Linked DNA regions of Homo sapiens: region 1 is linked to region 2. A link means that fine-mapping ties the variant in region 2 to the expression of a gene that starts in the linked region. Tissue or cell type: whole blood. Region 2 holds a variant in brackets; the other region holds the start of a gene. All regions are shown on one strand. Distances are between the middles of the regions. Region 1 holds the start of LPAR3 (lysophosphatidic acid receptor 3). Region 2 overlaps LPAR3 (lysophosphatidic acid receptor 3).

Region 1 (15,337 bases), 30 kb before region 2:
TGCTTATTTTATTAATCTGGTGAATTACTGAACTTTGATTTTTAAAATGTTGAAACAACCATACATTAATGAGTTAAATCTCAGTCATGCTATATTATCTGCATATGTTGCTACATTTTATTTGCTAATTTTTTGGAGAATTTGTATTCTATCTTCATAAATGGTATTACTCTATAATTTTCCTCTTTCATAATCTTCTTGTCAGGTTTTGCTATTAAAGCTATGCGGGCCTCATGAAATAGGTAGAGAAATTTTCCTTCCTATATTTCCTCAGAAAGTTTTTATAAGATAATTATTATTTTCTTCTTAAATATTTGATACAATTCATGAGCGAAGCCTTCTGGACCTAGAGTTCTGTTCATGAGGTTTTCCATTACGTATTCAATTTCTTTGATAAGCATAATGCTAGCCAGACATCTTATTGCTTTTTCTATCAGTTTTGGTAAGTCATGTTGTGTCTGGAATTTATTCCTTCCAGTGGGTTCTTGGTCTCACTTCAAGAATGAAGCGGTGGACCCTCGCAGTGAATGTTACAGCTGTTAAAGATGGTGTGTCCGGAGTTTCTTCCTTCACATGTTCAGATGTGTCCAGAGTTTCTTCCTTCCAGTGGGTTTGTGGTCTCACTGACTTCAGGAGTGAAGCCGCATACCTTCGCAGTGAGTGTCACACCTCTTTAGTCTGGAGTTGTTTGTTCCTCATGGTGGGTTCATCGTCTTGCTGACTTCAGGAATGAAACTGCACACCCTTGCGGTGAGTGTTATAGCTCATAAAGGTACTGCAGACCCAAAGAGTGAGCAACAGCAAGACTTATTGCAAAGAGCAAAAGAACAAAGCTCCCACAGCGTGGAAGGTGACGTGAGCAGGTTGCCGCTGCTAGCTGGGGTGGTCAGCTTTTATTCCCTTATTTGGCCCCGCCCACATCCTGCTGATTGGTCCATTTTACAGTGCACTGATTGGTCCATTTTACAGAGTGCTCATTGGTCCATTTTACAGAGTGTTGATTAGTGCGTTTTTACAGAGTGCTGATTGGTGCATTCACAATCCTTTAGCTAGACACAGAACACTGATTGGTGCGTTTTTACAGAGTGCTGATTGGTGTGTTTACAATCCTTTAGCTAGACACAGAGTGCTGATTGGTGCATTTACAATCCTTTAGCTAGACACGAAAGTTTTCCAAGTCTTCACCTGACCCAGAAGCTCAGCTGGCTTCACCTCTCAATGTTTTTAAAGGAATTTGTCCTTTTCATCAACTTGTCAAATTTATCTAATATTATTTTTGAACTTTTTGATGTGTGTAGGAACAATAGTGATGTTCCCCTTTCATTACTGATTTGACAATTTGTGGGGTTTTCTTCCTTATCTTGACCAATCTACTATGAGAATATCAGTTTTATCAATCTCTTCAACAGAACAACTCTTGGTTTTCCCTACTGTTTGTTTTCTCTTTAATTGCTTTCCATTCTTGTTCTTTTATTTCCATTTTCTACTTTCTTTGGGTTGATTTTGCTCTTCTTTTTTCTAGCCTTTTAAGGCAGATGTTTACATCGTTAATTTTTTCACTTTATTTTTTTCTAATACAGGTGGCACCTATGGCTTGACTTATGATTTTTTTTTTTACTTTAAAATTGGTCTATCTGTACATAACCTCATCATAAGTAGAGAAGCATCTGTATAACCAATTAAAACTATAAACATCTTTTTAAGTACTGCTTTGGCTGCAACACATAAATTTTGATATGTAATGTTTTCATTATTATTCTGTTCAAAATTTCTAAATTCTCTTGTGATTCCTTCTTTGATCCATGGGTTATTTATATGTGTGTCACCTAATTTCCAAATATTTGTGGATTTTAAAGATATCTTTTTGTTGTTGGCATCTAATTTACTATCATTTTGGCCAGAGAATAATTTCAATTATTTTAGATTTATTGAAACTTGTTTTATGATTCAAAATATGGTCTATCTTTGGGGGACTCAAGGGGAAAGGGTGGGAAGGGGGTGAGGGATAAAAGACTAGAAATTGGGTTCAGTGCATACTGCTCGAGAGAAAGGTGCACCAAAATCTCACAAATCACCACTCAAGAACTTACTCATGCAACCAAATACCACCTGTTCCCCAAAAACTATGGAAATAAAAAATTTAAAAAATACATAGCCTATCTTGGTGAATATTACATGTGTACTTGAAAACACATATTGTGTAGTTGATGGGTGTTAACGTTTATAAACACCAATCAGGTAAGTTAGTTGATGGGGTTGTTCAAATCTTCTATAACCTTATTTTTTTGTCTACCTGTCCTATCAACTATTGAGAAGTGTTAGAATCTCCAACTATAATTAGGGATTTGTCTATTTCTCCCTTTGGCTCTGATAATTTTTATTTCATATAGTTTGAAGGTTCATTATTTGATGAGTTGATCATTTTATCATCATGAAATAATTGTTTTTTTCCAGGTAATAAGCACATTTAAAAAATTACCACAATATATTTTATCTTTTTAATTTCCACTGCATTTGGTGGTAGGTACTATTACTCCATTTATAATTGTAGAGACTGAGTGAAATTGGCCAAGGTTTTTAACTAGTAAATATGGTAGAACGTATAAAAGTTTTCAAACTTGAAGGCTGGGTGCGGTGGCTCAGGCCTGCAATCCCAGCACTTTGGGAGGCTGAGGTGGGTGGATCATGAGATCAAGAGATCGAGACCATCCTGGCCAACATGGTGAAACCCCATCGCTACTAAAAATACACAAATTAGCTGGGTGTGGTGGTGCACGCCTGTAGTCCTAGCTACTCAGGAGACTGAGGCAGGAGAATCGCTTGAAGCCGGGAGGTGGAGGTTGCAGTGAGCCGAGATTGTGCCACTGGACTCCAGCCTGGTGGCAGAGCGAGACTCCGTCTCAAAAAAAAAAGTTTTCAAACTTGACAGCGAATCTTAGAAGTCATGGGCACTTTAATTAAGTCCTATAACATGTTTCAGTTTTATTCTTTTGTTTTTCACAACTTTTTACTTATATGCTTATTTCTACACACATTGGTCATTATTTTCCTCACTCATATTTATACTTTGTACCCGTCATTGTTATTCGCCTTTGCTATACTAGTTCTATCACAACACAGCATAATGAAAGTAAGCCATGTCCAAGTAATTAAAAAACCTAATATTGAACCTCCTAGAAAATCTATTATAGCAAGATCATTTATCATGACATATTTTCTTGCTGGTAAGTAATAACTAAATTCTTTCAAAGTGAAGTATAAAATTGTGTGATTTACTTGTTTTAATATGTTTCTGTCATAATATTATAGAATCCTATTTAATCGTATATATTTTTTATTTCAAACTGTATGACATCAAAGCCTGAAAACTTCTTAGCCCTTGATCTTCCATTTTAAAGGCATCAGCCCTCTATTTCAGAGGAACTAAAGGTTAAAGCTCTGATTTTTTTTTATAGTGCATTCACATTATCTTAGTCTACTGTGTTAGTATTCAAATTACACAAAAACATTAAATATTAATCTGGCCAGTGCCCCTCAAATCCAATTGAAAAAAAATCAATCCCGGAGATGAGAATGTTAGTGTCATATTACAGCTTTCTTTTGCAAAACAAGGAAAAAAGTTTAGTGCATAGAATGAAGAAAATTCTGGCAGGATTTATTTACAACTATTTCCTTTTTCAGGTTTACTAGAATAAATATTTGTGCAGCTGAATGTGTTGCTAGAAGCAGATCCTTGATGGCTGCCTTAGCAAAGCCAATATCTAGGCATAGCATGGACATCAGGCTTGGGGGAAGGTAGTCTACTATACAAGCTGCTATCATTGTCCACACATGACTTCATCTTTGCCTAGGTGGACCCTCAGCATTCCACAGTTGTTGAACTCATGGAGTCTCCATAATGTTCTCTTATCTTGGTGAAGTGTGTATACATATCTCAGGCTGCAAACTTAGGCAGACAAACATACAACTATTTTTGTAAAAGCGGATCTGAATTCTATCTTGAACCTCCTATTTCTTTCTTTCTTTTTTTTCCAAGACCGAGTCTCACTCTGTTGCCAGGCTGGAGTCCAGTGATGCGACCGCGGCTCACTGCAACCTCTGCCTCCCAGCTTCAAGCAATTCTCCTGCCTCAGCCTCCCAAGTAGCTGGGACTACAGGCACCTGCCATCACGCCCAGCTAATTTTTGTATTTTTAATAGAGACGGGGTTTCACCATGTTGGCCAGGATGGTCTCGATCTCTTGACCTCTTGACCTCGTGATCCGCCTGCCTTGGCCTCCCAAAGTGCTAGAATTACAGGCATGAGCCACCGTGCCCGGCTGAACCCACTATTTTTATCACTGACTGAATAATTTAGTCGTATGGCTTTCCAGGTAAACTTGGGCAAATGCAACAGTCTCAGTCATTTTAAGTTTATATTTAGGCTTCTGCCCCTCTCATTTTCTCCGTGTGGCATCTAGGTTCTAAAGAGATTTTAAGGTGTTCAGGTGTTGGGGTAGAGTGGGTGGGTGGTAAACACCTGGCTCACTACATTCCTTTGGGGGTGATTCTCCCTCCTAATCTTTGGATGCTGGCCTCTGTCCCTGCTGCATTCACCACCCAGGTTTCCTTTTAGGTATTTAGCAGCAAAGAACTGACTTGAGTGCTATTCTCCATCACTCTGGGGCTCACAGGAAACTGTGGATTCAGTCCCTCCTGTGTCTATTTCTGCCATGTCACCACTTCAGTACTGCTGCTCCCCATATCAGGTTGGTATGAAGCACTTCCATTAATATTTTCTATCCAAGTCTCAGATGGAAAGCAGGGCACAGTACAATATTTCAGGGGTCCCTAACCCTGGGGCCACAGACCAGTACCAGTCCTTGGCCTGTTAGGTACAGGACCACACAGCAGGAGGTGAGCAGTGGGCCAGTGAGTAAAGCGCCATCTGTATTAACAGCCACTCCTCATCACTTGAATTATTGCCTGAGCTCCACCTCCTGTGAGATTTACCAGTGACATTATTATAGAGTCTCATAGGAGCACAAACCCTATTGTGAACTGCACGTGCGAGGGATCTAGGTGCGGCTCCTTATGAGAATCTAATGCCTGATGATCTGTCACAGTCTCTCATCACCCCCAGATAGGACTGTCTAGTTGCAGGAAAAGAAGCTCAGGGCTCCCACTGATTCTACATTATGGTGAGATGTATAATTATTTCATTATATATTACAAGGTAATAATAATAGAAATAAAGTGCATAATAAATGCAATGTGCTTGAATCATCCTGAAACCATCCCCCACCCCTGTCCATGGAAAAATTGTCTTCCACAAAACCGGTCCCTGGTGCCAAAAAGGTTGGGGACCTCTTCTCTATTTGTATCAGTCAGGGTCATCTGCGTTATGCTGTGGTAACAAATGCTCCCCAAATCTCAGTGGCTTAGAAAGACTAAGGTTTATTTTTCACTCGCCTGGCCTTCCTGGGTCAGCCATGGTATTTCTCCATGCCTTGTGCTCTCCTAGATCCAGGCTGGTGGAGCTGATATTGCTGATATCAGGGTAGAGGAAAAAGAGAATAAAATGAACCTTGTGCTGGCTAGAAAAGCTCACATTTTATTGGCTAAAGCAAGTCAAATGGATAAACCTGACATCAATAAGGCAGAGAAGTTGAATTCTCCTCTGGAAAGGGGCAGCTTATATTATTTATTTATTTTTATTTTAATTTTTTGAGATGGAGTCTCGCTGTGTCGCCCAGGCTGGAGTGCAGGGGTGCAATCTTGGCTCACTGCAAGCTCTGCCTCCCGGGTTCATGCCATTCTCCTGCCTCAGCCTCCCAACCAACTGGGACTACAGGCGTCCACCACCATGCCTGGCTAATTATTTTTTTTTTTAGTAGAGATGAGGTTTCACCGTGTTAGCCAGGATGGTCTTGATCTCCTGACCTCGTGGTCTGCCCGCCTCAGCCTCCCAGAGTCCTGGGAGTACAGGCGTGAGCCACTGCTTCCAGCCAGGGGCAGCTTATATATTTTTTATTTTTTATTTTTTGAGACAGAGTCTTGCTCTGTCGCCCAGGCTGGAGTGCAGTGGCATGATCTCGGCTCACTGCAAGCTCCGACTTGCGGGTTCATGCCATTCTCCTGCCTCAGCATCCTGAGTAGCTGGGGCTACAAGCGCCTGCCACCATGCCCAGCTAATTTTTTGTATTTTTAGTAGAGATGAGGTTTCACCGTGTTAGCCAGGATGGTCTTGATCTCCTGACCTTGTGATCCACCCACCCCTGCCTCCCAAAGTGCTGGGATTACAGGCATGAGCCACCGCACCGAGCCAATATATTTTTAAATAATAATGCAATCTACCACTTTATTCCTGGGTTCCTAAACTTGAGCGGAGACCTAAGTGTCCCTAATAACTTAGCCTGAGGAGTGGTGAGAGGTCAGAAATACCATGCTCATGGCTTTCAGTGCTATCTCTTCTTCAATTCAAATTCTCCTCCCCAGGTCAGGAAACCCTATCTAACCTCCAGGGAGGGTGGTCTGGTTCTTCATCTGTTCTCTTCTAATTGACTGTTTATGGACAAAACATTCATGTTTCACTTCTTTCTGCACTTAGCCCTTTGAAGCTCCAGAAAACCCATCTTTTGCAAAATCACAAACCTTGGTGTTTAAGATTAGTTTTTCTGCTATGAATTTTAAAAAATCTATTTACAAGCTGAGAATTGATTTCTTTTATTCTTTCTCTTTTCTTACTTTTTTTTTTTTTTTGAGATAGGGTCTTGCTCTGTCACCCAGGCTGCAGTGCAGTGGTACAATCATGGCTCACTGAAGCCTCTACCTCCTGAGCTCAAGCAATCCTCCCACCTCAGCCTCCTGAGTAGCTGGGACCACAGGTGCACATCACCATGCCTGGCTAACTTTTGTATTTTTTTTGTAGAGACGGGGTTTTGTCTTCTTGCCCAGGCTGGTCTTGAACTCCTGGGCTCAAGTGATCTGCCCACCTTGGCCTCCCAAAATGCTGAGGTTATAGGCATGCCAGGTCCGCTTTGTTTTTTCTTTTAAAAATTTGTTGTTTTTTTTTGGTGGTTGTTTTGTTGTTTTTGTGTCCACCCTTGATAAATGCTCTCAGAAAAAATAGATTCTCTTGCCTCAGTGAGCTGAGTAGTCATGAGGGCAATAAGGAATGGTATTAAAAGAAAACCTCAATTATTGTCTCCAGATAGAATTTCCTCAAAACTGGAAGGTAGGTAAAGTAGATGTGAAAGTAAAGCCTGCTTGGATGGGAGCTTTAGGGTGTTTTGTCTTGAGTGACTGCTCTAAAGCATGCTTACTGTAGTAGTGGTGGATTATCACTTTCCATCCCATAATCTCCAATGCTCTTTAGAAAGGATTTGTAAAAGATTTACAATGCTAGCTTCCTATTTTCTGCTTGAAACTTCCCCTTGAGAATTACAATATTTGCCTACAGTATCACACTAGCCAAGCTCACACGTATGCTAAAGTAATACTCAAGTGAATGTACATGAAATTACAATGAACCAGAAACCGAGTAAAACAGGGAGCTTACCTTAGATTCTGTTTTTTCAACATGTTGGTTTTTATTTTTGATTTTTTTATTTATGGACTATTTCCATGACTTTCAATTGAAGTCACTCATATACTACTGAGAGATACTCCACAGGGCCACCTACCATTCTTGTACTCTCTTTGCCAGTAGTTTCTATGGAGTTAACTGTTTGCTCAGTCTTTTCTCAGAACTGTTATTTCAGGTACCACTTTCATCTCTCACATTACAGCTCCCATTCCACTTTCTCACACTATCCACCTGCTGTAGGCATCCTCATTGCTAATTAGTATAGATGAGCAAAATTCAGCAGAGATTCAGTTCAGATACTTCCCAAAGTTAAGAACAACACATCTGTGAATTCCTGCCCATATGATTGAAGCCCCAAGGTGAGCTGGGGACAGAGGAACATGGCCTCTTTCCATAAATCCAGAGAGGAGGAAGCCTTGCCTGAGTCCCACATTGCTTCTCACTGTGGAAGGAGGCAGGCAGTTTTGTGTTTTTTAAACTTACTTTGTTTTTTGAGACAGAGTCTCACTCTGTCACCCAGGCTGGAGAGCAGTGGTGTGATCTCAGCTCACTGCAACCTCTGTCTTCTGGGTTCAAGCGATTCTCTGGCCTCAGCCTTCTAAGTAGTTGGGATTACAGGTGCACACCACCATGCCTGGCTAATTTTTTGTATTTTTTGTAGAGATGGGATTTTACCATGTTGGCCAGGCTAGTCTTGAACTCCTGGCCTTAAAGTGGTCCACCAACCTTGGCCTCCCAAATATCTGGGATTACAGGCGTGAGCCACCACATCCACCCCCAATTGTTCTTTCAGCCATCACAATTTCATTCTATCAAGCACTGTGGAATGCCCCTTTTACCTCCTTATAGAAACAACGTTATAACTCTTTGTGTTTCCAGGAACACAAAACACAACACTTGTATACATGAAGCTGACTAGCAAATGTTTGTTGAAAGTTTTGAATGACTTTCCAGCCAGTGATCTCTAAGACAAAATACACCCTCAGCCTTCATCCTTGCCATTTTGATGTTAATTTTAATTTGGCTTTGCTAATAAAAACATTTCGGTAGAGAAGTGAGACACCACAGGCCAAACAAGGATTTGTAGGAGGTTCTGGTGGATAATCCCTGGGCTACCTTCTAAAAACTAGGAATTGGGGGCCACATCTTTCTTTTTAGTTGTCGTTTGCCTCGTCTTTTCTTTTCCTGCTTCTCCCCATAGGTGTTTGTTTGTTTGTTTGTTTATCACTGCTTTTCCTCTCTGAATCTGTTTCTCTGTAACACCTTCTGGCCTTCCCCTCACATCTGACCCATCTAGCTGTTAAAAACCATCTATCTGGAAAGTCTCTTTCCTTTTGCAACACAGCTCCCCATGCCCTCTTCACTTTCCTCCTTTTTTAAGGATTCAGATTCAACTCTGTGGGATCCCTGTTCTGCTTTGCAATTACCTCGAGTTCAGGAAGTTCCCAAGGTACAACATAATGCAACATAATGTGTTTCCCAAGTGCCTTTGTTAGTAAGTTGTTTGGATTCAGAACAGATTTTCCCAGCAAAAGAAGGCTCTTAGTGGTGTTTACAGTCTAGCCTGCAACATCTTACTCAACATACTACACCTTTGTTGCGTCAAGTATTCAGTAAATGCTGGTGGTTGAGTATTTCTGTGTTTACCAGGTTGCCCTTCAGCACCGTGATGTTTGAGCTGAGCTGTTCTCTCCCTTGACAGAGAGAGCTCTTTCCGACCCCCGCCCCTCCGAGACGGAGTCTTGCTCTGTCGCCCAGGCTGGAGTGCAGTGGCGCGATCTCGGCTCACTGCAACCTCCGCCTCCCAGGTTCAAACGATTCTCCTGCCTCAGCCTCCAGAGTAGCTGGGATTACAGGTGCGTGCCACCACGCCCGGCTTTTTGTATTTTTAGTAGAGACGGGTTTTCACCATGTTTGCCACCGAGCTTTTTTATCATATGCAAAGCTTCTGCTTGTAAAAGTAAACACATGATCTTTCTTTAGCCCTAGCTTCGCAAGTTGTACTTCTCTCTACACAGTTCAACTGCAAGACACCGCAATAATTTTCTGAACACTTAGATGAAACAATAATTTTCACATGCTGATGAAAACTTAGCTGTAGCCCCGGGGAGGTTTGAGGCACATTAGGCTATTATGGTCTATAGGATAAGACCCACGGAGTAAGGGACGTAACCTTATTAAAACATCCTCTGCAGAGAAAACAGAATCTCTTTGATGGTAGGGGACAGATTATCTAACAGGTTGTTTGCAAGGATGAGGTTCCTAGCTGGCACACAGAAGGGCGCAGTATTAATGGTGAATGCAAGATGAATGAATGAACGGATGGATGGATGGCAAAGGGTCACAGGAAGACATCTGGGCACACAACTCTCATTGCTTCCTAAGGGCCTGAAGTCTGAGTGGGAAGGACTTCACCTCACAGTATTTCCTTTTTGTAAGGTCACCAGGAAAGCACAACTTTGAACATTTCTGTGACTTCGTTATTGCTTTGCAGAATTCAGAGAGAACAATGCCTTCATGACATTTGTTTTACTTTGCATCTTTCTTCTTTACTAAAGGTGGGTCAGTGGAGGTTTTATATTTCAGCTTTGAAAAACAAAGTATCCAGGACTATTTGCCCCAGGAGGCCAAGAAACCTCTTACAAGAACCTTAAATATTGTTGGTTGCCTCTGGGGGCTGTCCGCACCCTCGGGTAGCTTTGGGGTTGAGGTTTCCAGCGTTAGGTCGGGCTTGGAGTAGAGCCTGCCTCCCACGGGGGTGGTGGGTGTGGGCTGCACTTCCCGCAGCCACTTCAAACAAATCTCTGAGGACAGAGGGGCAGAGGGACTGCGTTCTAATACGGAGCTCCGAGGTATGGCTCCGTGAGGCTTGTGGGTACTAGCGGTCCTTTAGTGGGCGCTTTTCCCTCTCGGGGCCGGCCGACCACCCACCTGGGGACGATCCCAGGCAGGAACGCGTCTGCAAGAGCGCTGCCCTCCCGCGGCTCGCACGGGCCCCTTTGAGCGCAGCTCGCGGCCTTGCAGGTTGGGGACGCTCTCCAGTGGGAACGTCGAACGCACCCGGCGGGGCGGGGCGGGGCAGGGAGGGGCCGCTGTCCCTAGGTCCCTCCCTCGCACCGCCAAACTTTCCTTTGGCTCTGGACGCGTCGCAGGGGTCGCTGGAGAGGAGGCGCTCCGCCCGCCCGCCGCGTCCTCCGCTGCTTCTCCGCGCCCGGCTGGAGCCCGGCGCCCGGTCGCCCCGTCGCGCTCGACCCCGAGGGCATGCGGCAGCCGCAGGGGCCCCCGCTCCCGGGCTCGGCGGCGCGGGTGAACGTGAGCGGTGAGTGAGGGTCCGGGCGCAGGGAGGGTACCCCGAGCCGCAGTCACCAGGGCGTGCGTCGTGGGGAGGCCGGGGCGCAGCGGCGCCTGCAGGGCTCTAGCCTGCGGCTTTTCGGGGTTGCCTGGCGTGCAAGCCTGGGCTCCAGACCCACTCCAAACCCCGGGACAAGACTCTCCCGGCGGGTGTATGGCACAACTTGCTCTTTTCCCACCTTTTTCCCCGCTAGGAGCAAAAAGCAATCTAGATGCAAAATCGGCGTTGCGTCCGCTGCTGAGGGCTGGCGGGCTGGGCGCAGAGGCCAGGAGAGCGCCGCACGGGTTGCGTCTGCCTTTGCACACGTGGTTCTTTCCAAACTCAGTCTCATTGCCATCGATGGTGATTAGGAAACTGGGGTTCTCTCGTGAAGCCTAGGGATATAACATTTTTCAGCCTCCAGTTACATCTGGTACTGTGCTGTGTCCGCTGGGGAACAGCTTGAACCATGTGCAGGCTTCTAGAGATTCGGGAACTAGTAACTAGCAACACTGTCGGGGTTGTTTGTTCAGGGTATGCCCCCTCACCACCACGAGACAAAAGTGCTTTTGTTCTGTAGCAGAGTTACTTTATTGCTTTCCCTCAACAAGTTGCAGCTACACAAAATTGCTTAGAAATTCCGCACGCATGTAATTTGAGGAGTGACTGTGAATATTGGAAACAATTTAGTCTTATTAAGGTAATCATTAAAATGGCCCTGAAAAGCATTTGTAGGTTAGTTTTTATTTATTTATTTATTTATTTATTTATTTATTTATTTATTTATTTTTGAGACACAGTCTCGCACTATCATCCGGGCTGGAGTGCAGTGGCGCGATCTCGGCTCACTGCAACCTCCGCCTCCCAGGTTCGAGCGATTCTCCTGCCTCAGCCTCCCTAGTAGCTGGGATTGCAGGCGCCCACCACCACGCTAGGCTAATTTTTTGTATTTTTAGTAGAGACGGGGTTCCACTGTGTTGGCCAGGCTGATCTCGAACGCTTGACCTCGTGATCCACCCTCCTCAGCATCCCAAAGTGCTGGGATTACAGGTGTGAGCCACTGCGCCCGGCTAGGTCAGTTTTTTAAACTGAGTAATTTCCACGAAATGTTTCCCCCGTAATTTGTTATTGTCATTACAACGCTTTTCTTCCTCCTTTTCCTCCGAAAGTAGCATTACCTGGTCTTGAGATGCCGTTTAGAAATAAAGGGCTTTCTCACGGTTCCAACTTAGTCTGTATCAGAGAATAAAGTAAATGTCAATTACAGACAGACAATCAATCTCCTCTTTACAAATTCCATGTACCGCACAACGTTTCATTAATGCATGGACTTTTGTATCGCTGAGAAGAGTTGCTGGATTTTCCATTGATCCATCAACAGTTGCTAACCCTGCTTTCCATGGGCAGTGGATCTGATATTTAGTGGCCTGAGTCCAGTAAACAGAGTTTTCCTCTTTTTGGGACAGAAGTGATACGGTTAGAAACACACACCTTGGCTCTGTTAACCCCAGGCTTGTCTAAACAAACTGGACTATACTAAAAAGACGAGCGAGCAAACCCTGCCAGTCAGAGTTGTGTACTTGAGATAAGCTTCCAGAGTTGTCTCTTGTGCCTTGAGACAGCAAGGAACTAGTTATCCTGTGGAGATCTGGACGTCTAACTATTTGGACAACACTTACATTGATTGTCACTATCATATAACTAAGAAAATAGGTCATTTTGGCAAAAATTTTTTCTTTGTCTTTAGAATTTGAAACTTTGAGGTTTTGATTTAATTACATATGACACTCCTCTTGTCTAAACCTTTCAATTGCATTTATCAACTACCACTCTTTTTTTTTTTATCAGATCAGACCTATTTTAGATATCTTGCTGTTCTGCAAGATATTTGTTAGAACAGGCCTGCATATGTTTTCTATGAATGGAGACTGAATTTAAAACATTAAAGTATGAGATTGTTTTTCATGTGTGTTCACCGGAATCTGTTTAAGAAACTACAGCATGTTAACTCTCCATCTCATTTTTCAGAAACACACGTGCACAGTGGAAGAAATGCACACACAGCATTGTAGCCAGGCAGCACCCAGACACACACTCTCAACATCACTTATACACACATGCCTAAGGCTGGCTGCTTCTCCCCCAAGTTTCTCAGCCTGCTGCTGAGGAGCAGCAGTGCGTGATAACTTAAGACCCGCCTCTTATTTCTTTGGGCTGGGGCAAGGGGAATCACTATAACTGAAATGGGAATTACTGTACCTCAGATTACCCATTAGCCATTCTCCTTGGAGTATACATTAGTTCAAATGCTTTCTGGCCTGTGATTATACCCAACAGAGTGGTTAAGTCTGTTTGCAGGATTCTAGATGGCAGAGACCAGGCCCAAGGCATTATTAATGCAGTATAAATGGAAGACCAAGGCTTTGCAGTCAGACCAGCTTTTGTTCCAGTCCAAGCTTTGTGACCTTGGGCACATAGCTTCACCTCTCTAAGTCTTAATTTCCTCATCTGTAAAAATGAAGATTATATCCATCTCCCAAGATTAAAAGAGAAAGCACTGAGCATGGTCTCTCATATACAGGAAGTACTCCTTAAATGCTGGTTGCCCTCTTTTCCTCCTAGATAAAAATTTAAGTATTAACACTTGTGTAAACATGGGTGCAAATGTATATTCTGGTAAAAGTGCAAAGATTTCTAAGCCTTAGATGACTTAGAGATGTTATACACACTTTTCTTACTTGCTTTCTCTTTTCCTGGCCATGGGCCTTTTGTTCCTCCCTTCGTCATTCCTCCTGCAGGTACTGAGCCTCCCCCTTTCCGGCCTTGATGATCCTTTGTTCCTCATCCTGGATTCTGTATTTGTGGAGGAGTCACCTGGAACTCAGTCCTGCTGTGGATGGCAGAGGTGGTGATGGGGCTGGGGAGCTATCTGCATAAGTGCAGAGACTTTGTGCTTTTACAAACGGTGGACTAGAGGTACTTGGAGCACAGGGTTCTGTCTTTGAATCCTAGTCCCACTTTTGTGAGTTCTTGTGACCCTGAATAGATTGTCATGTTTAAGTTTTTTTCATTTATATAGTGGGGATAATAATTACTTTTCTACCTGTCTACATGGATTGTTAATGAGTTCCATTAACTTATGTACGTGAAAGAGCTTTGTACCCTGTGAAGAGTGCATAAACATTGGAATTAAAGAGGCAGGACATCCAGATGTGGGCCACCCCAGGCAGGCCCACTCAGCTCTGGCTATTGGGGGTTGGCAGTATCTCCACAAGCATGTTTTGAGTGCTAAGGGGGCACTGCTGCAGTTCTTCCATATTCCTCTCTCCCGTCCTCTGACATCATACTGGACTTCGAGGAGGAAATAGCATCAAAGGTTGAGAAACTGCTCTGTGGGGAATATGAGAGGAAGTTAAATTTCAGGACTGAGGTTACCCAACACTACATGATCGAAGGCATAGGGCAAAGTTCCAAAGAAGCTTTAATTTCGTGTTGGAATTACCTGTACTGTCTGCGCATCTCAGTTCTTAGTGGACAAACACAAACAGCTGGCCACCACCCATCCCACAGGTCAGGAGGAGGGTGCTGATGGCAATGTTGGACAATGTATTGGGTCCACCTATACCATCCTCACTCCCCTGTGCCTTCTTGCTGACTTGGGTCTCTAGTTTACTCTGCAAAGTTCTAAACTGACCAAAGGCATTGCTCCCCCACCCCCAAATTAAGCTAATTACTTAATTCAGTCTGAAAGATATTTGTTGCTCTCTACCTGTCCTGGCAAGCCAGCTGGAGGGTGGGGGAGGGGATTTAGTACCATTGAGGGGAAGGTTCTGACATCCTGGGTTATACCCACCCCTCTCTTCATCACCCCCAGTCTTATGTCCTCCTCTTTATTCCTCTTCCTTGGCTGGCCTCTTGTCCTGTGTATCTACAACCTTGAACTCCTCCCTTGCCCATGACCCCTGATACTGCCCTACTCCCATGATTCTGTCACCCCTCTTCAGATGTGAATCATTTGTACACCTCAGGCTGGGCCAGACTGGGTGTCACTGTGGAAAGCAACCTGCCCAGCACAGCCTGCCCCACCCCTTCCTGAGGATGTTCATCAACCCCTCTAATTACTCATCAGCTAGTCCTGTGTCTACATTGTTCCCTGGGACATTAAGCTGGAGCTTCTACTAGCCCTGGCCTTGACTCACCCATGTGCAGATTGACCAGTTATCAAGGGATGGCTTGGCAGGTGGCAGGGCTGGGTTGGAGGGCACATTAGCCCCTCCATAAGTGCACTATTTGGTCCAAAGGCCTTCCAAGCAAACATGCGGTCTAAATAAAAGCAGTGTATTTGCTTTATAAATGCAGCTTTAAGGCAAGCCCCTGGTCTCCCCTTTTAAGCCAAGCTATCCCGAAGCACATCCTCTGTAGAAATTCTGGAGCTGCCCC
Region 2 (15,337 bases):
AGGTGAGCCCCCTGACGTGCCATGGGCTGTCCTCCCTGCCTAAAGGTCTCCAAAACTTGCACTGACACAAGAACCTGTTTATTCTGCTGAGCTCAGGCTGCAGTTTTCCCTGCGTGTCACCATCTCTGAGCTGAAGATGACCTGAGATGCTTAAGCTTTGCGTTTGTATTAAGTATTTTCCCAAGCACACCCATTGTACGCTTGCCTCTCTGTGGCTTCTCCTCTTGGAACCTCTACTGACCAGTATTATGGAGACTTTGTTGATACGTGAAACAGGATCCAGATCAGAGCAATTTTAGGTGTCTGAGTTTAAGATTTGTTCTAAAGAGGCTGGGCACCATGGCTCATGCCTGTAATCCCAGCACTTTGGGAGGCTGAGGCTGGCAGATCACTTGAGGTCAGGAGTTCTAGACCAGTCTGGCCAACACCGTGAAACCCCGTCTCTACTAATAATACAAGAATTAGCTGAGCATGGTGGCGGGCGCCTGTAATGCCAGCTACTCCAGAGGCTGAAGCAGGAGAATCACTTGAACCCGGGAGGCGGAGGCTGCAGTGAGCAGAGATTGTGCCACTGCACTCCAGCCTGGGTGACAGAGCAGAGACTCGTCTCAAAAAAAAAAAACAAACAAGCAAAACAAACAAAAAAAACTGTTCAAAAGAAGCAGAGTAACCAAACCCAAACTTTAGCAACACTGAGGGTTTAGCTTTCTCAAGAGAAATGATCTAGAGTATGAAGATACAGAAACCGAATTGTAACCCTACCCTTAACAAGCACCCCTCTAATAAACATATTCGCTTTATCCAAGAATATCAGAGGCATCTCATTCTCAGTTACAATGTCTGTTTAAATTTAATTTTGAACAAATTGCCACTCCTCTGTTTATTTTACCATATCAAAGAGTAAAGTAACTGCTTATGAAAGACAGGGGCTTTATTTATTTTAAAATTAGTGTAGTAGAGTCAACAACATGCCTCCTCTTTAAAAGTTATTTTTAATATTTGTTTATTTACAGAGCAGTCTTCTATATACAGAAAAATTGAACGGATAGTACAGAGAGTTCCTATGTTATAACCCCTCCCACACACAGTATCCCTTATTATTAAATCTTACATTACTGTGGTATATTTGTTGCAGTTAATGAACTGATAGGGATATGTTAACGTTAACTAAAATCTGTACTTTGTTTAGATTTCCTTAGTTCTTACCCCTATCCTTTCGGTGTTCCGGGATCCCACCCAGGATCCTTATTCTATTTAGCCATTATGTCTCCTTAGGCTCCTCTTGGCTGTGACCGTTTTTCAGGTTTTCTTTGTTTTTGATGAGTACCAGTTTTGAGGAGTACTGGTCAGAAATGTTGTAGAATGTTCCCCAACTGCGATTTAGCTGATGTTTTTCTCATGATTAGCCTGGGGTTATGGGTTTTTGGGAGGAAGATCACAGTAAACTGTGATTTACTCTCTGATCTTCATCATGAAGTAATACATCTTATCAAGATTACAGACTAGCAATATGACTTATCACTGTTGATGTTGACCTTGATCATCTGGCTGAAGTAGTGTTTGTCAAGTTTCTCTGCTGAGACGTCACTAACTGCCCCCACCGCCCGCCCCATTTCCATATTGTGCTCTTTGGAAGGAGGTCCCTGTGTACAGCCTACATATAAAGGAGCTATGCTCCCCCTCCTTTACAGCGGAATATCTATGTTATTTATTTGGTATTCTTCTGCCTGGGAGATTTGTCTCATCTTTCCATTTATTATTTTTTTCAATAATTTATTTATGTCAGTATGGACTCATGGATGTTTATACTTCGGGTTATAATCCAGTACTACTTTATTTTGTTGCCTGGATTGTTGTAGCTTTGGCCATTGGGTCCCTCTTTTGAAGTATTATTCAAAGAGGAATCTTTGTTTCTGGTGTTCATACTAATAGAGAGAGGTCTCTATTGTGAGACTGTCCTTCAGAACGACCCTGACTGGTCTGCTCAGGTGAGCTGCTTTTCTGGAGGTAGGGAACCCACTCCTTATACCTCTCAGCTTGCAGGACTTGGAGCCAAGTCTCCCCAGAGGAATAAATGGGTTGTGAGACCCAAATTAGAGAATATGCAGAAGAAGCATAAAGTAATAATGCTGAATTTGGGTAAAGGTTAGGGAGCATGTAGACATGAGTGCACAAGCATTACTTCATTTAATTCTACATTTAACAAGTATTTACTGAGTGCCTAATGTGTGCTGGGCATTGTTGCAGGCACCATAACAACATACGTTCTCTGCCTTCCTAAGCATAACTTCATCAAAAACAAGGAAAATCTGAAAAACTGTCACAGCCAAGAGGAGCCTAAGGAGACATAATGACTAAATAGAAGTTGGGGAGATAGACCGTAGCCCAAGTAGATAGTTGAGGTATGGAGAAATGCTGTGGAGAAAAATAAAGCAGGGTAAATGGCTTAAGTGCAGCAGCGGGTGGAGGCTTGGGGTGCTCTTTAGAGAGTGGCAGGGAAAGGATCTCTGAGGAAATGAATTTGAGCAGGAATGAGGTAGAGAAATGAGCCCCCTGGGTATCTTGGGGAAAAGTCTTCTGGGCAGAGGGAATGGCAAGTGCAAAGGCCTTGAAACTATGGCTAAAATGAACCTCTGGGATTTCATGTGGATTTAAATCTTCCATGCTATCCTGATTTTGCCATTAACATGAATTATTAAAAGGAATTCAGTGAACAGACGTGATTGCTGACCCAGGATTGGTTGCTAGAGTACCAACTAACCTAACATCCAACTCCCATCTGGATAGAGTTTCCTAAGAGGAGAGGACTGGTCTACATTTGTGAACCACAGAGAAAGAAGATATGCTCAGTATTGACTGACCATGTCTTTGATGTACCATACTTCTTTCTAGGAGGAAGGAGAGATTGTTATTGAAAGCCAGCTAAAAAGCCAGGCAGCAACTTGTCTCATAAGATGTAGCTAGAAATAAAAGCTGCTTGAGTGGTTTTCAAATGTCTTAATTCTCATAATTGTTTCCACATTCTGGGCTGGCTGGACATTTTTTCAGGGAAGCAAGTTTGGAAGAGTCTAAATGAAAGCTTTGCTCATGAAGTTTTCATTTGGATTCCACATATAGACTTTCTAAACCATCATTTTATGAAGTCTTAAATTACTGAAGTTTGAAGTTGTGGTAATTGCTCCAAAGTTTAGCATCTTTTTTTTCTAGGTTAGAACTATCAGACCCTCTAAACCTTTAGTATAAAAACAAACAAACAAAAAACAGCTTGGGATTTGACAGAAGTAAAGTTGAGCAATGTTAACCTGGTCCTGAAATTGACCATATTGTATCCTACTTACCATAAAAGTTGAAAACATATTTTCAGAAAAGTGTCTTCTCAGGGTTAAGAAAAAAAAAGGCCAAAGGCTATTTAGAATGCCCTCTATTTTTTATAGCATGGGGCAGTCTTTTAATGTGATTTGATCAGATCATTCTATTTTGGTAATTCTGTAACTCTTGTAAGTATAAATATAGTCCTTGGTTCTGTCTGGCGTTTCACATGCCTGTGGAGATAAAGTATAGTGTTGCAGATAAGAATGCAGGCTGTAGAACGAGGCTGCCTGAATAGAATCCAGGGTCTCCCACTCCTAGCTGTGTAACCTTAGGCAAGGGTGCTTCAGTTTTCTCAAATGCATAATGGGTGTAATAATAGTATCTACATCATTGTTGGGAGGATACCATGAGATAATCCATGTAAAATGCTTAGTTCAGCACCTGGCACAGATAAGCACTCAAATATTAATAATGAAAAATAGTAATAATAAAGTAGAGATATTAAGTAATGTACCTGAAAACACTTAGTTAATAGGTGACAGAGCTCGCTACTTGTCATACTTAGTGATTGATGTATAAGTCAGCAAAGGCATTTCACAGAACCTTTTCATTTTAGACATGGAAAAAGATAGTGTAAGACAGAGATTCATTCATTCATTCAACAAATACTGATCCTGTAGATATGAGCATAATAGGCAGGTTCCCTGCTTTGCTGGAGTGGAACGGTCTAGGGGTGGGAGATGGACAATAAATTCTTAAGCAACAAAAGAAAATACTGGGTCACAAGCAACTGGGTAGCTCTGATGGAGGTAAACCAAGGGCTCTCTGAGAATGAGAGCTGTGGAGCTATCTTGAATTAGTCAGAAAAGTATCTTTGTGGAGGGGACATTGAGACTAGGACTGAAGTAACTGATTAATTTGTTCAAAATCACAGAATCATATTTTAAGGGTTAAGGGAGGCCAAGAGATAATAATAAATCAGTCATTTGTTATAAGCTTGCTAAAAATTTTTGGTAATTCTAGCTAAGACAGTATGATAATCTGTAGATAACGTGTACTGGGGAGATCTGTGGTGATGGCATTAGGCAATGTTTTATAGGAGAATTGGTGAAAGCTACATCCTTGTGTGGTCAGGGTTTTGCAAGTCAAGTTTTGGTTATGTGAAGATTAAGTAGAAAACTATTTTATTTTTGTTGTCACTGAAAAACCCTGAAGTGTGCTGTGCTTGTAAGAATAAACTGAACATATGCAAATCTTTGAGGCTTTTCCTTTGAACATTAATTTTGATTTTTCAAAGCCATAATTGTAGAAGATAGAATACATTAAGTAGAATATATGCTTCTAATTAAAAGTCTTGATTTACTTATTACAGAAAATGTGGTAGATGGAAAAAATTAGAAAGAATTTTTAAAAAATGACTCACAGTTCCACCATTCTTAACTATTTACATTTTGAGATTTTTTTTCATTATCTTTTTCTATATAGTCAACACAAATAAATTTTTGTTATGTGTATTGTATATTAAAGCAATGACATGGGCTTTTTCTTGTATTACCGCAACTTCATAGTGAGTATGTTTTTCATGGACTGTATAGTATTCCATCCTGTGCAATCTTTTTCACCAATTTCCTATGCGAAGTTTTTTTTCTCTCATTACCTGTTTCTCTCAAAAGTAGGATCTGGAACCAGGGTACAGTGCTGCTTAGTGGGAGTTCTGGCTAATCATAGTTTTTCTGTGATGTCTCAACTTTGTCAGACAAAATTGCTTTGCAGTCTCAGGGCAATTTTTGCTAAAAACATGTCTTAAACTGTTTTGGTTTTGACAAGGGACAGTTGAATTTGAAGATTTTTGAAGTAAAAATCATTGAGGTGTTAGTGCTTGATATAATTAAAAATTCGACCACATGTAAGAAATAAAACTAAAATGTTAAGATCCTTCAAAATAAAATTAGGAAAATTTGAGTAGTATTTTTGTAGTGTCTTAATTCCAATGTCTTTGTGACATATTCATCTTTATATTTCTAATAAATTAGTCAAAGATAATATAACTTTTAAATTAGAAATGTTTCTCTTAGATGTATAGAGCATGAAACAAAGTAAAATATATACATTATTTTTAATTAGAAAAGACACATAATAATTGTATTATTAAATTTTCCCATGTGGTGTCTTAGTCTATTCCTGTTGCAATAATAAAAATACTTTAGGTAATTAATAAATAACAGAAATTTATTGCTCACTATTCTGGAAGCTAGGAGGTCCAAGATCAAAGCATCAGTAGATTTGGTGTCTGGTGAGGGCCTGGTCTCTGCTTCCAGAAGGGGGCAAATGCTGTGTCCTTGAATGGCAGTGTGGCAAAAAGGGTCTCACGAGTTCTCTCAGGCCTCTTCAATAAGGGCACTAATCCCATTCACTTCCCAAAGTCCCCACCTATTAATATCACTGCAGTTAGGGTTAGGTGTCAACATGAATTTTGGAGGCACACAAACATTCAGACCATAGCAAGTGATTCTCGGATTGTTTGTCTTGAATTTCTGTATACTTTCAACATGGTTGAAAGCTGTATTTCTCTTTAAATATTTAAATTGAGTATCACTAGATTAGCACCTTGTATTTAACTCTCATATGCTGCTGGTAGAATTAAAAATATGATCTCTCAGGCTGGGTGTGATGGCTCATGCTTGTAATCTCAGCACTTTGGGAGGCCAAGGTGGGCGGATCACCTGAGATCAGGAGTTCGAGACCATCCTGGCCAACATGGTGAAACCCCGTCTCTACTAAAAACACAAAAATTAGCCGGGCGTGCTGGCATGCGCCTGTGGTCCCAGCTACTCAGGAGGCTGAGACAGGAGAATCACTTGAACCCAGGAGGCAGAGGTTGCAGTGAGCCAAGATTGCACCACTGCACTCCAGCCTGGGCGACAGAGCAAGACTCCATCTTGGAAAAAAAAAAATGCTATCTCTCTTAAGTGGAGTTTCACAAGATGTATCAGAAACCCTTAAATAGATTTATATCCTTTACTTCAATTTGAAATCTATGGGTTATTCCTAAAGAAACAATTGGCTAGATATATAAAGATTAATGAACAAGAATGCAGCCTTGCTTATAAAAGTGAAATACAGGAAGCAACCCTAATGTCCAGTATTTAGGATTAGTTAAGTCAGGTGTGGCCTATTCATATAATAGAATATTGTGAAGCTATTAAAATTATACTACCTGTATTTTTAATTTGGGGAAATTATGATATAGTGTAAATATATGATATTATCATGAATTTATTTGATATTTACAGTTAAATATTGGTGACTGTCTGCCAAAGAGAGTAATTTTTATTTTGTCATTATGAAAATTGAGTCTTCCTTTCTTGTAATTGAAAGATACTGGAACCATTTGTCTCTTGAGACTACTCCCAGTTTTTTTTAAGCATATAAAATGATATTTACCTCCCATTTGCTATGGCCAAAAAGCAATATCTAATTCATGTAAAAGTATCATTATACCATTAAAATATAAATTAAAAAAAA[G/AG]ACTGAGATACATTTCTATTTTGTACTACTTAATAGTTATCTGGTCTTCTTGATTCTGGTTGTGGTATTAGATTTCAGAATTTTCAGGAACTTTAAAATCTGGGGGCTTTTACTGAGCTTTTACTGTCACAGCTCCCAGAGGGCTGCTCAGTCCCTCTGCCGACTGAATCTCTGGTTCTCCAGGGAATAAGCTGCAGCCTCATTCTCAGTGAGGGAGCAGATGGTCATTCTTCCAAGAAGCTAGAACCCTGACCCTAAGCCCAATCTTCTTCCGTAGGACCGTTCATGGCTGTGGCCAGACCACTGTGAGGCAGAACACTTGGTTTTCCCCACCACGTGTAGACAGATGGGCATCCGTGGGGCTTCTGCCCAGCCCTTCCTTGGCCAAGATCCCTCGCTTTTGGGATTCAAGAGATCTTTTACTGAGAGGATTAGTGTCTTCCCTGTCTGCCTGATATCCCAGTTTGGGGTCTTCTTTCAGACAAGTGTCTGAAGAACATGCCCTCACTTAATAGATATGTTCTCACATCCACATTGAGTTGGAGATCTGCCCCAATTCCAAATCTCAGTCTTGCCTGTGGAAGCCCGATCCTCCTCCACCTGCCGTGTTGAGGAATGCTGGAAAATCCAGTGAGCAGGTTCACATTGGTACAGTTTGGGTTAGGAGACTATAAGGAAGAAGTGAACAAAAGGTAAGGAAGGGAGATATTGGGACCAAAGTCTCCATCCCTGCATCATATACCTAATATGTGAATATCAGAGTTGTTTGTTGAAACCAAAAGATGGCAAAAGGAGGATCAGGAGTGGAATCAGAAGTCATAGAAAACTGGTCTCTTGGGGTATCTGTTTGGTTATGTGAATGGTAATTCAACTCCTATTATCTTGGGAAGAATGTACCTGAAATTACCAACCTGCCGTTGATTAATGAACATATCCATAAATAACTAATGAACTGGGAGCCAGGAGGAGGCATTAACATAATGTGTTGTCATTGTGTTACCAGTGCAGAGTGGATATTGCAGGGCTCAGCACATTTGCCCTGTTGATGCCTCCATGAGAATTCATTCATTCATTCAGCCAGCCAGCCAACCTACCAATAATTACCCACCATGAGGCAGACAGAGCAACTGAATCCTAGGGTTGTAATGGTGAACAAAATAGAGATACACCCTCCTAACCTGAGCGGCCTAGCCTGGGAAACAAACAATTAAAATGTGCGCTAAATGCTGTGGTAGGAGGTCAGGGGCTATGTCCTGGACCAAAGGACATTTGCACTGAGACCTGACACTTCAGGTCTTCAACTCCCTTGATGGGAGTTAGCCAGAACGGGCTTAGAAACAGCAATTGATGGCTTAGTGACTGATTTTACAAATGATATTTGTTTCTTCTTTAAATTTCTTTCTAGGATGTTCACTTCTCCACAATGAATGAGTGTCACTATGACAAGCACATGGACTTTTTTTATAATAGGAGCAACACTGATACTGTCGATGACTGGACAGGAACAAAGCTTGTGATTGTTTTGTGTGTTGGGACGTTTTTCTGCCTGTTTATTTTTTTTTCTAATTCTCTGGTCATCGCGGCAGTGATCAAAAACAGAAAATTTCATTTCCCCTTCTACTACCTGTTGGCTAATTTAGCTGCTGCCGATTTCTTCGCTGGAATTGCCTATGTATTCCTGATGTTTAACACAGGCCCAGTTTCAAAAACTTTGACTGTCAACCGCTGGTTTCTCCGTCAGGGGCTTCTGGACAGTAGCTTGACTGCTTCCCTCACCAACTTGCTGGTTATCGCCGTGGAGAGGCACATGTCAATCATGAGGATGCGGGTCCATAGCAACCTGACCAAAAAGAGGGTGACACTGCTCATTTTGCTTGTCTGGGCCATCGCCATTTTTATGGGGGCGGTCCCCACACTGGGCTGGAATTGCCTCTGCAACATCTCTGCCTGCTCTTCCCTGGCCCCCATTTACAGCAGGAGTTACCTTGTTTTCTGGACAGTGTCCAACCTCATGGCCTTCCTCATCATGGTTGTGGTGTACCTGCGGATCTACGTGTACGTCAAGAGGAAAACCAACGTCTTGTCTCCGCATACAAGTGGGTCCATCAGCCGCCGGAGGACACCCATGAAGCTAATGAAGACGGTGATGACTGTCTTAGGTAGGTAAGAGGACCCAAGCAAGCCATCATTCCCATTCATTCAGCAAATCTTTACGGAGCATCTGTGGTGTACCAGGCACTTACTAGGCAGTAAGAATGCAGCAGTGAACAAGAACGGACATAAATCGCCACCCACCTGGAGCTTACACTCTAATAAGGAAAGATAAAATAAGTATTCTAATGGGGGTAAACAAATTAAGTGAAATAAGATGAGTCTCCTGTGGAAAAATCAATCAGGGAAGGAAGGAAAAATAAAGCAGGGAAGGGAGCTGGAGAGTGCTAAGCTAAGCAGGTATCGTTTGCACTTTAAAAAAGTGTTGTGAGGGATGCCTGGAAGATGACTTTTGAGCAGAGGTGTGAAGGCAGTCAGGGAGTGAACCATACTGGTGTCTGGGGAAGGGTGTTCCAGGTGGGAGAAGCGGTAAGCACAGGAGCCCTGACCAGCCAGGAAGCCACTATGGCTGCATGGATCGAGCAGAGGGAGTAGGAGAAGATGAGGTCAGGGAGCTGGTGGGGTAGGGGATGGGCTACTCAGATAATGTAGGGTCATGTGGTTATAAGGACTTCAGCTTTTCATTTTTTTTTCTTTTTTCTTTTTTTGCCGGAGCCTCACTCACTCTGTCACCCAGGCTGGAGTGCAGTGGTGCCGTCTCAGCTCACTGCAACCTCCACCTCCCGAGTTCAAGCAATTCTCCTGCCTCAGCGTCCCAAGTTGCTGGGATTACAGGCAGCGCACCACCATGCCCAGCTAATTTTTGTATTTTTAGTAGAGATGGGGTTTCTCCATGTTGGCTGGGCCAGTCTCAAGTGAGATGAGAAGCTATGGGAAGGTTTTAAACAGGGGAGTGACATGATCTGACTTATATTTTAATGGTATCTCTCTGGCTACTGTTTTAAGACACTGCTGTAATGAGGCAATAGCAAAAACAGGAAAATTGTTTAACCTATTTATGCCTAGTGTTCCATTATTGGAATGCTAAGCTTGTGGGAGTTATTTATATCCTACTGCTCAAGGTCATTGACAAGTTCTGATTTTTCACAAAAGAAATTTGCAACCCCTGGCATAAATGGGTTAATAGAGTATTTCAGTACTCGGGAGAGATCACCATGGCCAGATGGTAGTTGAAGGTGATGGTCAGATTCTGTTTTTTTGTTTTTTGTTTTTTTTTTTTTGAGACAGGACCTGGCTCTGTCATCTAGGCTATAGTGCAGTGGTGCAATCTCAGCTCACTGCAACCTCCACCTCCTGGCCTCAAGTGATCCTTCTACCTCAGCCTCCCAAGTAGCTGGGATTACAGGCCTGTGCCACCAGGCCCGGCTAATTTTTGTAATTTTTTTAGAGACAGGGTTTCACCATGTTGCCCAGGCTACTCTCGAACTCCTGAGCTGAAGCCATCCGCCTGCCTCGGCCTCCCACAGTACTGGGATTACAGGTGTGAGCCACTGCACCTGGCCAGATTCCAGATATTTTTTAAAGGATTTACTGATGGGTAAGGTAGAGGGGAAGATGAGAGGTGGAGGAGAAGGTGGGGAATGTCATTAACCAAGATGAGGAAGACTGAAGAGGAGGAGGTTTTGGGGGAAGATTTGGTTTTGGACAAGCTAAATTTAGGAACCTATTAGACATCCAAGGGGTGTGGCAATTTTATTGAGTGGACAGTTGGATGTTTGACTCAGGAATTCAAGATTTAGGTCTGGGCTGGAGATGTACATTTGAGAGTCCTGGGGGGAAACTGGTATTTTAAATCACAGGACTGCGTGAGCTCACCATGAACGTGAATGTGGATATGAAGGAGAGGAGGACCAAGGATGGAGCCGTAGGGCAGGCCCTCCAGTGTAAGGAGGTCAGGAGGTAAGGGGCAGCCAGCAAAGGAGCCCTAGAAGGGATGGAAAACCCAGGAGACTCTGGGGAACTAGAAGAAAGAGAAGAAGGCAATCGAGGAGAGGAAGCATTAGCAGTGTTGGTACCCCTGAGAGGTGGTGTAAGACCAGGTGTTGCTGGCCTTACCAAAGTGGTGGACTTGTGCTGATCTTGAGATCATCACATTTGGTATAGCCAAGAGCCTGATTGGAGTAAAATTGAGAAAGAAAGGAAGAGCCTGGGCAACATGGTGAAACCCCATCTCTATGAAAAATACTAAAATTAGCTGGCCATGGTGGTGCATACCTGTAGTCCCAGCTACTTGGGTGGCTGAGGTGGGAGAACCGCTTGAACCCGGGAGGTTGAGGTTGAGTGAGCTGTGATCACACCACGGCACTCCAGCCTGAACAACAGAGTAAGAGCCTGTCTTAAGAAACAAAAACAAAACCAAAAAAAAAAAAAGGGAGGAGAGAAAGGTTGTGAGCCCTGTACCAAGAAGACATGTGGTTTCGTAGAATTTTCCCTTTGTTTTATTTTCTCTGAAGTAGGTGGCCTATTGCCCCACCTCCCCAGTTCTAATTCTGGGTTACAGGTAGAATTTGTAATGTGTGGGCAGACAAGAACTTTTGTGGTTTCACAGAACTTGTCTTGTAAGGCAGAGAGGCCGTTTCTCACTGTGTGTGTGGCTGCAGCAATGGGGACTGTTGCTGAGAGAGATTCAGGAGTACATTTCTGTCTACTCCTTATGAGAAGGAATTATAAAATGAATTATCAGGTAGCAGTTCATAGTGGAGGATACAGTATGTGTGGTGTGGTATAGAAACCCTCACAATGCCTCTAGGTCCTGAAACTGCTAGTAAGATTTGGGGGTCAGCAGACACAGAGTGTGATTGTTAAAATAATTTCAAACTGAGGATTTATTTAACAAATATTTATATAGTGCTTAATATGTGCCAAGCATTGTCCTAAGTGTTTTTACAAACATTAACTTATTTAATTCTCATGGAAACCCTGTGAGATAGGTGCTACTATTATACCCATTTACCAGATGGAGAAACTGAGAGTTTAAGCAGTGTGTCCAGTCACTCAGCTGTTAACCAAGACTCACTGCGCAGCTGGCCTCTAGAGTTCACATATTTACCACCATACTCTGTGGCTACTTGTGATTTATCTGGACTTTTTACGCTCATCTTTTTGTCCTGTCTTCTGCTTTGACACCGTTGACACATTGATAAGAAAATGGACAAGAACAAGAAAAAGAGGGTTCACATTAATCGGCATTTCCCCTCGAGCTGGAGAAGATATTGATGTTTTTGATAAAGAATGAACTTTGGTATTTACAGATAGTGTCAATGAACTGTGCTGCTGTCCCTGCTTAACTTGTAGGCATAATCATTTGCTTGGCTATGTGTCTTGAGAAATTACCCGCCTGCTTAAAAAGAAAACTTTCTTTTCTCATCATATTATAATATAGTATACAGCATGATAGAGACAAGGATTCCAAAATCCTAGGTGGAGAGAACAGGACCCTTTGTGAGACAGTCATGGTCACAAACTTCAGTTTTGTATGTAATTTTGTCTGCAACAGTTACGGAAGGGGTTAAAAGAAAGGAGCTGGGAGGTTTTGGCAGGTGTGGTATTGACTAAGAGAAAAACCAGAATGAACAATTAAATTTCCAAGTAGGATAAGAGAAGTCATGCAATTGAGATAAGACAACATTGGGGAATTGGTTAATGGAAGAAAGACAGTTTGGTGTCAAGGACCTCAGAAGTTCCTTAATGGTAAGACAGAGGAACCTGGTGGAAGACAGGAAGTTCAGGGACGAGGGAAATGAAACTCAAGAGCTAGGTGGTGTAAGGCTGAAGACTTCCAGCTCCTGATTTCTCTAGATAACAGAAAGATTTGGGTTTTACCCCCAATTCTTTCATTTTCTACAAGGGTGATCTGCAGCACATCAGCTCATCTTTTCTTGGTTAGATTCCCTCATCAGGTGGCATAGACCATCTTTAAGTTCTTTACAAGTTACAAAGTTCAATTATCCTTTATGACAGTTAGTAACCAAAGGTGGGAATGAAAAGGAAGAGTGGAGAGAGAGAGAGGGAGAGAGAGATTGAGAGAGAGAATATGAATCTTGTGGGGCAGCACCAAACATTTCTGTGGATCCAAGCACAGAGCCTCTTTCCTTGACAGCAGCACCTACCACAGTATCTTCCTAGGGAGAAAGCCCCCAGTTCCCTACATACTACATGTAAGAATTCAATTGCCTGAAACAAGCATCTCCCAAATGATAGTATATTAGAAAAATCAACAGTGCTGGCATTAACCATCATCTAATCACTGGTTCTGATTATGTGGAGATGAATAGCTTAATACTCATGTTTTTAATAATTGGAGGATTTAAATGTCTTTATGATAAAATGCTAAACATTTCCATTTACTCCTTGATACATATTTTGTAGGAAAGATTCATTTAAGATTAAATCCATCCAGGTGTGGTGGCTCACGCCTATAATTCTAGCACTCTGGGAGGCCGAGGCGGGCGGATCACTTGAGGTCAGGAGTTTGAGACCATCCTGGCCAACATGGTGAAACCCCGTCTCTACTAAAAATACAAAAATTAGCTGGGTTTGATGGTAGGCACCTGTAATTCCAGCTACTCAGGAGGCTGAGGCAGGAGAATTGGTTGAACCCAGGAGGTGGAGGTTGCAGTGAGCCAAGATGGCGCCCCCGCACTCCAGCCTGGGTGACAGTGAGACTCCGTATCAAAAAAAAAAAAAAAAAAAAAAAATTAAATCCTAAAGTTTCTTACGAACCCTCTTCTTTTACATATTAGAAAGTCAGTCTCTAAGTACATATTAACTGTCTATTAAACAGTATCTAAGAGGTACATGGTTGCATGAATTCAGTGAGCTTAATCTTATTTCAGAAGAGGAAAGGATGGACAGGGGCTGTTGAGTGTGGAGACGGCTTCTTAATGGGCTGGGATGTAATCTGGAAGGATAGGTGGGATTTGCATGGGCTGGAGGAAGACACATTCTAAGAGGGAGAAATGGCATACTCAGAAGTGTGATGATAGAAACATTTAAAGCTTGTGCATTACCATGAGGAAGGCCCCACAGAGTACAAATACTTGCTGTGGTGCGGTGGAAAAATAGCTCACCTGTGAACCAGCAAAGTTTAGTTGGCTATCCTCTTTGGAAGGAGAGTAGACCAGATGACCTTTGTGTTCCTTTCCAGCTTTGGGATTTTGGTTGAACACAAAAGCTAACAGCATGGGGATTCAGACTCTTTCCTTGAGGGTAGTGGTGGTAGTGATGATGGTGATGTGAGTTTTCAATCTGTGTGTGCATGATTGGAAAGGCATCAAGGCATCATGTTCCCGTTTCAGCAGCCCTGAGGCAAAATGCTTGCTCACTTCTGGGTTAGAATGTGTGATGGGGCCCTTTATGTGAAAAAAGTTGCTTATTGAATGTTCTCATTGAAAAGACATCGGAGACATACGATCCTGCTTTCCAAAGAGCACCAAGGCCCTGCCTAAGAAAGGGTTTTGAAATCTTACTTGTCAACAAGCCTAATCAGCTACAGCAACCAAACACACAAGAAACCCCACATGGAAACGTCTAATTTATTGTCAAACAACACACCATGTGAACTGTGCACACAGAAATGTTTTGTTATTTCCCAGAAAATGGGCTGGACTTTGCTTTATTTTGCAGTGTCTTAAAATACAAGAGAAAAGAAAGAGGGAAGGGACTTGCAAACCATTCTTTTGAAGTCTTCCATGAACCCTCCTGTCCTTTAGTGATGTTTTTCAAACTGTAAGTTTTGATGCACTGATGAGATTGTAAGCAACACTTTTTAAAATGACATAAAAAGAAGAGAAAATGTCAGAGTGTGTTGCATTTAACAGGTATCAATATTGTTTTATAACCTTTCTTTGCGTGCCTGTGTGTGTGCTGGGTTGTGATATAAAATGTATTTCCTATCATGAGTTATCGTCAAGAACGTTTGAAAAACCATGATCTTGAGGGTCAAGGTTTATTTTTCTGCCAGAAAGCACTGAACTCTTTTAAAATATGAAACATTATCGTTGTTAAGGGACTTAGGGCTTGTGGTAATTAAAACAGGGAGCTGGTTGTTTTTCTTCTCACTTCTTCCTCCCTCCTCTCCACTTAGATTGATGCTAAATCATCCTCTTTTGTCTCTTAGGGGAGAGAGGAAGAAGGCAAAGTAGCAGTAAGCAACGAAACGATAGCTCAAGTTCTCATGCTAGGAGGAAATGGGTGAAAATTAAGTACCATAAAGAGCCTTGCCAGAGTACTAATAATAATCACACATGATGTTTCTGCAGTACTGTGTCTTTTTCAGTTTTAATACACTGTTCTCTTTGGTCTCATGGAAATCCTGCCAAGCAAGTAGTTAAGGTATTATTATCCGATTTTCCTGCAACTCCCCTAGATGTATCCTATACTCAAGCTA

What was found. PIP is the estimated chance that this variant, and not a neighbour inherited with it, causes the effect.
Region 1: it holds the start of LPAR3, and the variant in region 2 is fine-mapped to the expression of LPAR3 in whole blood (INTERVAL, PIP 0.95).

What each region holds. Positions count from the first base shown.
Region 1 is chr1:84,888,564-84,903,900 of GRCh38, reverse strand. LPAR3 (lysophosphatidic acid receptor 3) reads left to right here and starts at 10,695. Exons shown (of 3, transcript NM_012152.3): 1 at 10,695-10,885.
Region 2 is chr1:84,859,044-84,874,380 of GRCh38, reverse strand. LPAR3 (lysophosphatidic acid receptor 3) reads left to right here. Exons shown (of 3, transcript NM_012152.3): 2 at 8,243-8,996. The coding sequence starts at 8,261. Among named protein-coding and RNA genes, the nearest start is that of LPAR3, 26 kb to the left of the region's middle. The variant G/AG (reference allele first, on the strand shown) is at 6,838.